Homo sapiens: one gene and its partner. The protein of the gene in region 1 purifies or fractionates together with the protein of each later gene. This does not show direct contact. Each region holds a gene or a part of one and is shown on either strand. Other genes may lie near its edges.

Region 1 (5,082 bases):
GTCAGATTCTGTTCCAGACCCTAAGATGAGAAACAACTTTTACTGCTTTATAGTAGAAATTATAAGAGAAGGTACTTCACCACAGCCTGCCCTGGACTAGAGGTGAATGCCTCATGCTAGACCTAAGAATGTTAAATGTAAACCAACTGGCTTGTGTGAAGTCAGCTTGATAGCCCCTAACTTAGTCACTAACTAGCGGGTACACATCTAGTAAAGACCCAGCCCTAACCCCAGAAATGAGGACTAATCACTAGAAATAGCTGAGCAGTTTAATATACTGTAACTGCTTTCTTTCCCTCAAGGTCTTTGTTTCTTGGCACAGGCAAATAATGACCCATATGACTCTAAAATTTTACCCAATAGTCCAATTATCCCTGTAAAGTTCTGTCAGAAGGTGCCCCCAGATACACTTAAGTGAAAAAACCAAAATCACACCGTGGAGGCACAACAGGTTGGGTGGTTTTCCCCTCAACTTTTAAACTGGGTTGGAGGAAGTCAAAAGCAGACACGTACACATATTCAGCCTCATTTTCAAACCATTCACCCCAGCAATGTGATCTAATCAATATAATTAGAAGATTCTCAATGATGATGACCTATATCTCTAGTTTTTCCAAACATAATTCACATAAATTTCTTTCAATTCAAAGGCCAAGCATCAGTAAAGACTACTGAGGAAAAAAAGCATACACCTGCACCATTTTCAGGCTAGGAAAAACAGATTTCTACATTTTTATGAAAAGGGAGTCCCTGGGCAACTGGTCATTACTAAGTCTAATAATGGAAAAATAAATACAAATAGTTCAATTCTCCAATAATTTTACCAAATCTCAGGCCCAGGGACAAGGTTAGTTAGTGATGTGGTAGGGATTAGAGCAAATGAAAAGGTCTGGCAGGTCTTGGTTTTCAATGTCAGATCAATTAGGTAAAATAGATGGCATGGCAGGCTCAGGGTAGTCCGGGCCACATTACACAAAAATGATACACAATGTACTATGTATCTATCTGAAGTAATGAAAACCAAGATTTGGTTTCATATTCCTAGAACTTTTGCATTTAAAATTATCATTCTATGTTCTACATCCAAACCCAAGCAGATTCACTGGAGAAAGCGGCGCATCACAGGGTTAGTATTGGTGGGTAGCGCCCAAGAGGGGTGTGGACGACAGACACACCATGCACACGGCAAACCAAGGCAAATACCCTTGTTGTTCTTCGTAACAGGTTGCTTGGCAGAGGGGGTTGGGACAGGGATTCCAGCAGATTTAGGGGTGGGCATGTTGACGAGGACCGACTGGAAAGGCACTCCCCCAGAGATTGGTTCCGGGGGAATCAGAGGCAGCAGCTCATCCTCATCAGCAGGGGCAAGGGGTTTAGAGGGTGATTCCAACACCAGCCCAGGAGAGGACGGCAGAAATTGCTGTTTAGGAGGCAGAGTGGGAACTGGGGAGGGAGCAAGAGGCAGAGAGACTGGTGGGGAGGGTGCTGCAGAGACAGATGCTGATTCAGGTTTAGGAAGGACCTTCTCAAAGGCAGCTGCTGTTAGAGGGGTGGACGCCTTAGACTCAGGAGGAGCCAAGGGGCCCTTTGGGGAATGAGAAGCATCTTTGCCTTTTGCTGTCTTTGAAGAGTCTTTCTGAACAGGGAGTAGAGGGGCTGGAGCCACTGTGGAAAGGGGTCCTTTAGAACCATTCTTAGCTGAGGGATCTGGGCATATAGGAGGTGAAGTAGCAGAACTCTTTTTGGTCTGTGGACCTTTCCGAGTGGGAGCTGTGATGATTGGCGTGCTTTCTGGAGCTGGGGCAACAAGTACTTCTTTCAGAGCTGTGGGGCCTTTCTTTGCTGGAAGCCCTTTAGATGCTTGAGGAACAGTGGCCCCCATTTTACATGTGACAGAAGCTGGGGAAGTAGGGGAGTCTTTGAGGGAGGAAGGAGTCACAGGTGGGGAAGTGGGAGTCCCTTTGGGGGCTGGAGTTGCTGGGCCCTTTTCGGGGGATGGAGGAGTCACAGCTGGAGGAGTAGGTGCCTCTTTGGGGGAAGGAGAAGTCACAGCTGGTGGAATGAGGAGCTCTTTGGGGGATGGGGCCCCTTTGTAAGTGGAAGGAGTCACTGCTGGGGGACTGGAGGCCTCTTTGGAGGATGGGGTAGCTGGGGCTTCTTTGGGGGTTGGAATTGCTGGGGTCTTTTTAGGGGAGGGAACAGTCATAGCTGGGGGAATGAGGGCCTCTTTGGGGGCTAGAGTTGCTGGGGTCTTTTTAGAGAGAAGAGTCGCTGTTGGGGCAATGGGGTCCCTTCTGGAGGATGGGGTAGCTGGGACCTCTTTGGGGGAAGAAGGAATCACAGCTGGCAGAGTGGGGGCCCCCATGGGGGCTGGAGTTGCTGGGGCCTTTTTGGGAGAGGAAGAAGTGGCAACTTGTTTGGGGGCTGGGGGCTCCTTGGGGGAAGGAGGAGTCACTGCTGGGAGGGTGGGATCCCCTTTGGAGGATGGGGTAGCTGGGCCTCCTTTGGGGGCTGAAGTTGCTGGGGCCTTTTTGAGGGAGACAGGAGTCACTGCTGGGGGAGTGAGATCTCCTTTGGATGGGGTGGCTGCGCCTTCTCTGGTGACTGGAGTTGCTGGAGCCTTTTTGGGGGAGAGAGGAATCACTGCTGGGGAAGTGGGGTCCCCTTTGGGAGATGGGATAGCTGGTCCTCTTTTGGGGGAGGGAGGAGTCATAGCGGGACCTCCTTTGTGGGAGGGGGTTGCAGCTGGGGGAGTGGGGCCCTCTTTGGAGGATGGAGTAGTTGGGCCTCCTTTAGAGGAGGGAGTTGTAGCTGGGAGAGTAGGGGTCCCTTTAGGGGAGGGAGGAGTTACAGCTGGGGGAGTGGGGGCCCCTTTGGGGGGTGGGGTACCTGGGCTTCCTTTTGGGGAGGGAGGAGTTGCAGCTGGAGGAGTGGGGGCCCCTTTGGGGGGTGAGGTAGCTGGGCCTCCTTTTGGAGAGGGAGGAGTTACAACTGCGGGATTGGGGGCCCCTTTGTGGGGTGGGGTAGCTAGACCTCCTTTTAGGGAGGGAGGAGTTGCAGCTGGGGGAGTGGGGGCCCCTTTGGGGGGTGGGGTAGCTGGGCCTCCTTTTGGGGAGGGAGGAGTTGCAGCTGGGGTTGTGGGGGCCCCTTTGGGGGATGGGGTAGCCAGACCTCCTTTTGGGGAGGGAGGAGTTGCAGCTGGGGTTGTGGGGGCCCCTTTGGGGGATGGGGTAGCTAGACCTCCTTTTGGGGAGGGAGGAGTTGCAGCTGGGGTTGTGGGGGCCCCTTTGGGGGATGGGGTAGCTAGACCTCCTTTTGGGGAAGGAGGAGTTGCAGCTGGGGTTGTGGGGGCCCCTTTTGGGGGTGGGGTAGCTAGACCTCCTTTTGGGGAAGGAGGAGTTGCAGCTGGGGTTGTGGGGGCCCCTTTTGGGGGTGGGGTAGCTAGACCTCCTTTTGGGGAGGGAGGAGTTGCAGCTGGGGTTGTGGGTGCCCCTTTGTGGGGTGGGGTAGCTAGACCTCCTTTTGGGGAGGGAGGAGTTGCAGCTGGGGGCATGGGGGCCCCTTTGGGGGATGGGGTAGCTGGGCCTCCTTTTGGGGAGGGAGGAGTCGCAGCTGGGGGAGTGGGGGCCCCCTTGAGGGATGGGGTAGCTGGACCTCCTTTTGGGGAGGGAAGAGTTGCAGCTGGGGTTGTGGGGGCCCCTTTGGGGAGTGGGGTAGCTGCTGGACTTCCTTTGGGGGAGGGAGGAGTTGCAGCTGGGGGTGTGGATGCCCCTTTGGGGAATGGGGTAGCTGCTGGACTTCCTTTGGGGGAGGGAGGAGTCACAGCTGGGGGTGTGGGGGCCCCTTTGGGGGATGGAGTAGCTGGACCTCCTTTGGGGGAGGGAGGAGTTGCAGCTGGGGGTGTGGGGGCCCCTTTGGGGGATGGAGTAGCTGGACCTCCTTTTGGGGAGGGAGGAGTTGCAGCTGGGGGTGTGGGGGCCCATTTCGGGGATGGGGTAGCTGGGCCTCCTTTAGGGGAGGGAGGAGTTGCAGCTGGGGGTGTGGGGGCCCCTTTGGGGGATGGGGAAGCTGGGATTCCTTTAGGGGCTGGAGTTGCTCGGGCCTTTTTGGGGGAGGAAGAAGTCATGGATAGAGCAGGAGCCTGTTTGGGTGCTGGAGTAGCTGGACCCTCTTTGGGGAAGGGCAGATTCACCACTGAAGGAGTGGGGGTCTCTTTGGGGGGTAGTGTTACTCCTTTGGGAGACAGAGGAGTCACAGCTGAGGGAGTAGGGGCCCCTTTGGGGGATGGAGGAGTGGGAGAATGCGTCGTGGCTGGTGAGTCTTTAGAGCCTTGGAAAGAAAGACTATTCTCTGGAAGAAATGAAGCTTCAACTGGAGAAACAGGGGATGAGAGATTTCCAATAGGAGTATCAGGGCCAGCAGAACCCTTCTTGGTTGGAGGTCTTTTAGTCTGAGGAGACACACTAACCCCTAAAGGAGATGGGGAATCAGCTAGGTAAGTCAGAGTTCCTTTGGAAGATGCAGTAGCAGAAGCACCAGAGTCCTCAGTTGGGCACTCTTTGGGAGAGGAAGCAACAGGTGCCAATGCTGAAGTATGAGAAATACCATCAACCTTTTTTGTACCTGGAGGAGTCCCAGCTGGGGGAAGAGAGGGTGAGGGCACAGACTTTGGGATTTCAGGGGCCAGCACTAAGGTAGCCAGAGGAGCACAGGTATTCTGGGGGGATGGAGCCACAGGGCAATTTTCTGAAGCTGTAGGAACCAAGGGTAAAGTAGTAAGAGTACCTTCCTTAACTGGGTGGTTTTTAGGAGCTAAAGAGACAGTTCCTTCTAGAAAAGGGCTGGCTGTAGTTGTATAAGTTGAGGTACCTTTGGCAGTTGTGGGAGCCACCCCGGCAGGGTCAGCACTTTCCAAAGGAAATGCAGCCACTGTTGGGGTAATGAGAGAACTTTTGAGAAGCGGACCAGCAGAGTCTGGGCCTGCATAAGAATCTGTCTTGATTACAGAGGCCGAGGAGTTAACACCCAGAGGGGAGGTCATACTGCTGGCTGGCTTACCTATAGGGAGAGGCTCCCCAAGGC
Region 2 (5,082 bases), on another chromosome or scaffold:
CTTGGACTAGGATCCTCCTTACCTGGATGCTTTACAAGTACTCCTAAATTAGCCACCACTTAATGAAGACTATTAAGTACTCCAAAACAAAAGTAATGTCATTCTAGCTGGGGGGGGGTGGAACAAAAAAAATATATATACATATAGAGAGAGAGTATTAAAGTTTTTATGAGGTAGTACATAATATTTACTGTGCATTTTAAGATGCTAAGTTCAAGGCCAGGTACGGTAGCTCACACCTGTAATCCCACCACTTTAGGAGGCTGAGGCAGGTGGATCACCTGAGGTCAGGAGTTTGTGACCAGCCTGGCCAACACAGTGAAACCCTGTCTCTACTAAAAATACAAAAATTAGCCAGGCGTAGTGGTGCGCACCTGTAGTTCCAGCTACCAGGGAGGGTGAGGCAGGAGAATTGCTTGAGCCCGGGAGGCAGAGGTTGCAGCAAGCTGAGATCACGCTGCTGCACTCCAGCCTGGGTGACAGAGCGAGACCCTGTCTCAAAAAAAAACCAAAACAAAATATGCTAACTTAAGAGTTATATAATTTATATGTGCATCAGATTGGTCTTGAGATGCTTCTTCACATGGGAGAGGGAGCTGCAGCTGACCATTTGATTTCCCCGCCCCCCCCACCGAGACAGAGCCTCACTCTTTCCTCCAGGCTGGAGTGCAGTGGCATGATCACAGCTCACTGCAACGTCTGCTTCCCAGGTTCAAGTGATTCTCCTGCCACAGCCTCCAGGGTAGCTGGGATTACAGGCCTGCAACACCACGCCTGGCTAATTTGTGTATTTTTAGTAGAGGTAGGGTTTCACCATGTTGGCCAGGCTGGTTTTGAACTCCTGACCTCAGGTGATCTGCCCTCCTTGGCCTCCCAAAGTGCTGGGATTACAGGCATTAGCCATGGTGCCCAGCCTGTTCATTTGATTTTGAAAAGCTAAGAGAGCTATTATATTCCCAAATATGTTTATCTGCTAAGACTACAGAAAGCTGCCTCCCAAAGGACTTGTTTTTTCAAACTTAATCTGATGGGTCCAAGAGGAATGGAACCAACAAAAGCCATAAACTTACCTTCCCTCTTACCTATTGGATTGGTCTGGTCTTAATGGTCTGGAGTCATTCCTTATTTTTTTTTTAAATGTTCACAAACTGGACTTATCAGTGAGTATTGTCATTAGTAGTAATAATAAATGCTTACACTAACACTGTTGATTCTGTGGTCTCCTTCAGTTCACAACTGGTAATCTCCCACATCTATTCCATTTCTAAGCTTTGAATTTAATTGCCTGAAATTATACTGTACCATAAAATTACCATGAGCCATATTTGCATCGTAGTTTGCTACAGTTTGTACTGGGCATGGTAACTTTTCTTAAACTCTTAAAAACATTAAGAATTGCTGTTTAAGCTTAAACTTCACAGTTAAGGTCTTGAAAGTTAAGAATTTGAATAAGAGAAACAAAAATTCTAGCTGAGGTTTGAACTTTATATCAATAGAAAATACTATTGCCTATTGGAGGTGCTGACACATAAGCATCTAAAGATCAGGAAGACTAGTCTGGACAGGATTCTTGATCCAGAAGTTTGCCTAGACAGCATCTTTCACATCCTCAAAGGTGATCTAGACGTTTTTTTTTTTTCAACTTTAATTATGAAGGGGAAAAAAGGATACTTGGCATCAGGCTGTCCTTTCTTTCCGTAAGCCCATTCTGGTTCAATCTCCAGTCGAGCCTTTTCTCCTTTACTCATAGTCAAGAGAGCTTCATCCCACTAAAGGCAAGAACAAAATAAAAACTAATGGTATTTTGCAAAAAGCACATGCAATACCAGGACAGTCAAGACAAGATTGTATGTTAAAACAAACACAGAATCTATTACTATAGATTTCACTATATTCTAAGATAATGTACTTCAGTGAGTCCCTAAATCTTTGTCTTCCATTTCTTCAATAGAAAAAAAAGGGTATTTTAAGCAGGGCTTTTTTAATGTGAAAAGAACCTTTTGGGGCTCATACCTATAATCCCAGCACTTTGGGAGGCCGAGGTGGGCAGATCACTTAAGGTCAGGAGTTTGAGACCAGCCTAGCTAACATAGTGAAACCCCATCTTCTACTAAAAATAAAAAAATTAGCTGGGTGCGGTGGTGGGTGCCTGTAATCCCAGCTACTCGGGAGGCTGAGGCAGGGGAATCACTTGAACCCAGAAGGTGGAGGTTGCAGTGAGCCAGGATTGAGCCACTGCACTCCAGTCTGGGCAACAGAGTGAGACTCCTTCTCAAACAAACAAACAAAAAACAAAAAAAAAACTTTTTGTAAACTGTAACATGCCATACATTATGAAAACCAGTTAGTTATTAGCACCATCATAAACCTGCAACACTTTTACATCACAGGACAAACGAGTTTATTTTTATTGGAATACACTGGCAAGTACTCACTGTAAAATTGTTTTAAGATTACCAGATTGTAATAGTGGAGTCACGTTGGCACATAAAATACATTTTTTTCTTTTTTTCTTTTGAGATGGAGTTTCGCTCTTGTTGCCCTGGCTGGAGTGCAATAGCGTGATCTTGGCTCACTGCAGCCTCTGCCTCCCGGGTTTAACCGATTCTCCTGCCTCAGCCTCCCTAGTAGTTGGGATTACAGGCATGCCCAGCTAATTTTGGAAATACAATTTTTAAAATGTTACGGCACTAAGATCTTTTGCAAAAGGTAAAACTAACTTTTCAAAGAAACAATAAAAGTCTTCTGGGTTGGCCTCTCCATATTTTCCAAATTTGGATCTTAAAGCTAGTTTCCACAAACAGTTAAATCCACATCACCAAAGGGATAATATTCCTAATATTATATGCTGTATTGAAATGCAACAATCATATAAAGCACAAGGGACAAAGTTAGGGTGGTCACATTTGGAAAATAAGAATATGGTAGACTAGCCGGGCAAGGTGGCTCGTGCCTGTAATCCCAGCACTTTGGGAGGCTGAAGATGAAGAGGGCGATCACTTGAGGTCAGCACTCAAGACCAGCCTGACCAACATGATGAAACCCCATCTCTACTAGGAATGCAAAATTAGGTGTGGTGGCGCATGCCTGTAATCCCAGCTATTCGGGAGGCTGAGGCAGGAGAATCGCTTGAACTCAGGAGACAGAGGTTGCAGTAAGCCGAGATTGCACCATTGTACTCCAGCCTGGACAACAAGAGCAAAACTCCGTCTCAAAAAAAAAGAATACGGTAGACTAGAAGAAATTTACCAGTATGCAAATAAGTTACAGAAATAGAAAAATGGCCCAATTTGATAATATACTTGCTATCAACTTGGTACGGGCAGGTAACAATTTTTTTTTTTTTTTTGAGATGGAGTCTTGCTCTGTTGCCCAGGCTGGAGTGCAGTGGCGTGATCTCAGCTCACTACAACCTCCACCTCCCAGGTTCAAGCAATTCTCCTGCCTCAGCCTCCCAAGTAGCTGGGACTACAGGCAAGTGCCACCATGCCCAGATAATTTTTTGTATTTTTAGTAGAGACGGGTTTCACAGTGTTAGCCAGTATGGTCTCGATCTCCTGACCGACCTTGTGATCCACCCACCTCGGCCTCCCAAATTGCTGCAATTACAGGCATGAGCCACCACGCCTGGCTGGGGCAGGTAACAATTATAAGTTATGCTCAACTAAACCTTTAGTTTTAAGATGTTTTATATTCTGTATATGATTGTCTGAACCATATCTTAGGACCTACTGATTGTACAGAGAGTAATATATTGAAGGTTCCTATAACTGCATTTAAATAGGCATTTCAGTTATTGATGTCTGATGTTCTGAGAATAACAATTTAAAACAAACAATGGGCACAATGGGCAGGCCTTAGCATGAAAACCTGATTCATAGAAGGTGACAGTCTGCCCTACTCTTTTATCTTCTTTTGTACAGTATAATGGTCAGTACGGGTCAAGCCTAACTTCCTCTTTTCTCAAAGTTTCTTTCTGTTATCTCTCACATATAAGTGTAGGTTAAAGCATGCTCATGTTTGAATGATTTTCTGGTATTGCAGCCTATGTTGTATGAGGTGAAAAGGCTGCAGAAACAAACTCTGCTTCTGTGAATACTTCAGTGGGACAGATATTTTACCTTTGCAAATTATATGTAAATGGTACAACAGTTATAAGACATTTTACAGGAACCTTAAATTTAGAGGGCCAAACATTCTGACAAAGACTTACTTTATGAAGAAAAATAATAAAATGGGTACACATGGAAGGGACTAATATTTAAGCCCCTACTGTATTAGGTACTTCAAGTTATGCTCATTTAATCTTCTAAAAACCTTGAGGTAGGCAGTACTGTCCTCATTTTATATGTAGCGAAACTGAGACCGAGATAACTTGTGCAAGATCAGCTAACAATGATTATACCCAATCTGTCAGACTCCAAAGTCTGTTTCCTTTGTATTATATCCCCAAACCTAATTCTTTACAGCACCATACCAGAAGCAGCATATGCCAGAATATCTACTGATTCATTGGCATTCTTTACTTACTCCTCTGATAACTTTGCCTACTCCGACCTTAAAACTTAAAGGCTTGGCATTTTTCTTCTTCTTTGCACCTGTAAAACAGATTTTCCTTATCATTAATGATATACTCTAATTTATTATTAAGAAATTTCCATTGGAAATTATTAAATTCCAGTGGAAAAATATAGTGGTTTGATTTCAGAATTACAATACTATGTATTTTAAAAGAAGGAAAAAATTTACAAAGATCATCCATCAATAAAATTCTGGCTGTAAAAATAATTACATTCTTAACAAAGGGTAGAGGGGTAGGACCTATACTTATATCACAAAACAGCATACTATCCTGCCTTTTCTATTCAAATACTAATGCCTTACTTTGGGACATTAACCAGGTTTAGACTGAGATTCCTTATCTTTTGCTTTCCAAAGAACAAGAGGTCTTTAGCCAGCCAATAATCAGTGAACTGAAGACCTCTTCCAAGTAGATCTTGGGGGAAAGTATGTCTGGATGAAAGTAGGTGACAGTCAGGAAAAAGGTACTGCTAACTACTCATCTGTCTGCCACCCAAGTAT

What was found. The genes of interacting proteins can lie anywhere in the genome.
Region 2: the proteins of NACA (region 1) and FKBP3 purify together in Homo sapiens (affinity purification with mass spectrometry, with the first as the bait; one large-scale study listed by BioGRID). This does not show direct contact.

Annotation. Positions count from the first base shown.
Region 1 is NC_000012.12:56,714,668-56,719,749, forward strand, and holds part of NACA (nascent polypeptide-associated complex subunit alpha), read right to left. Parts: coding exon 1,204-5,082; intron 21-1,203; coding exon 1-20. UniProt on the Homo sapiens protein: Cardiac- and muscle-specific transcription factor. May act to regulate the expression of genes involved in the development of myotubes.
Region 2 is NC_000014.9:45,116,357-45,121,438, forward strand, and holds part of FKBP3 (peptidyl-prolyl cis-trans isomerase FKBP3), read right to left. Parts: intron 4,599-5,082; coding exon 4,531-4,598; intron 1,770-4,530; coding exon 1,672-1,769; intron 1-1,671. UniProt on the Homo sapiens protein: FK506- and rapamycin-binding proteins (FKBPs) constitute a family of receptors for the two immunosuppressants which inhibit T-cell proliferation by arresting two distinct cytoplasmic signal transmission pathways. PPIases accelerate the folding of proteins.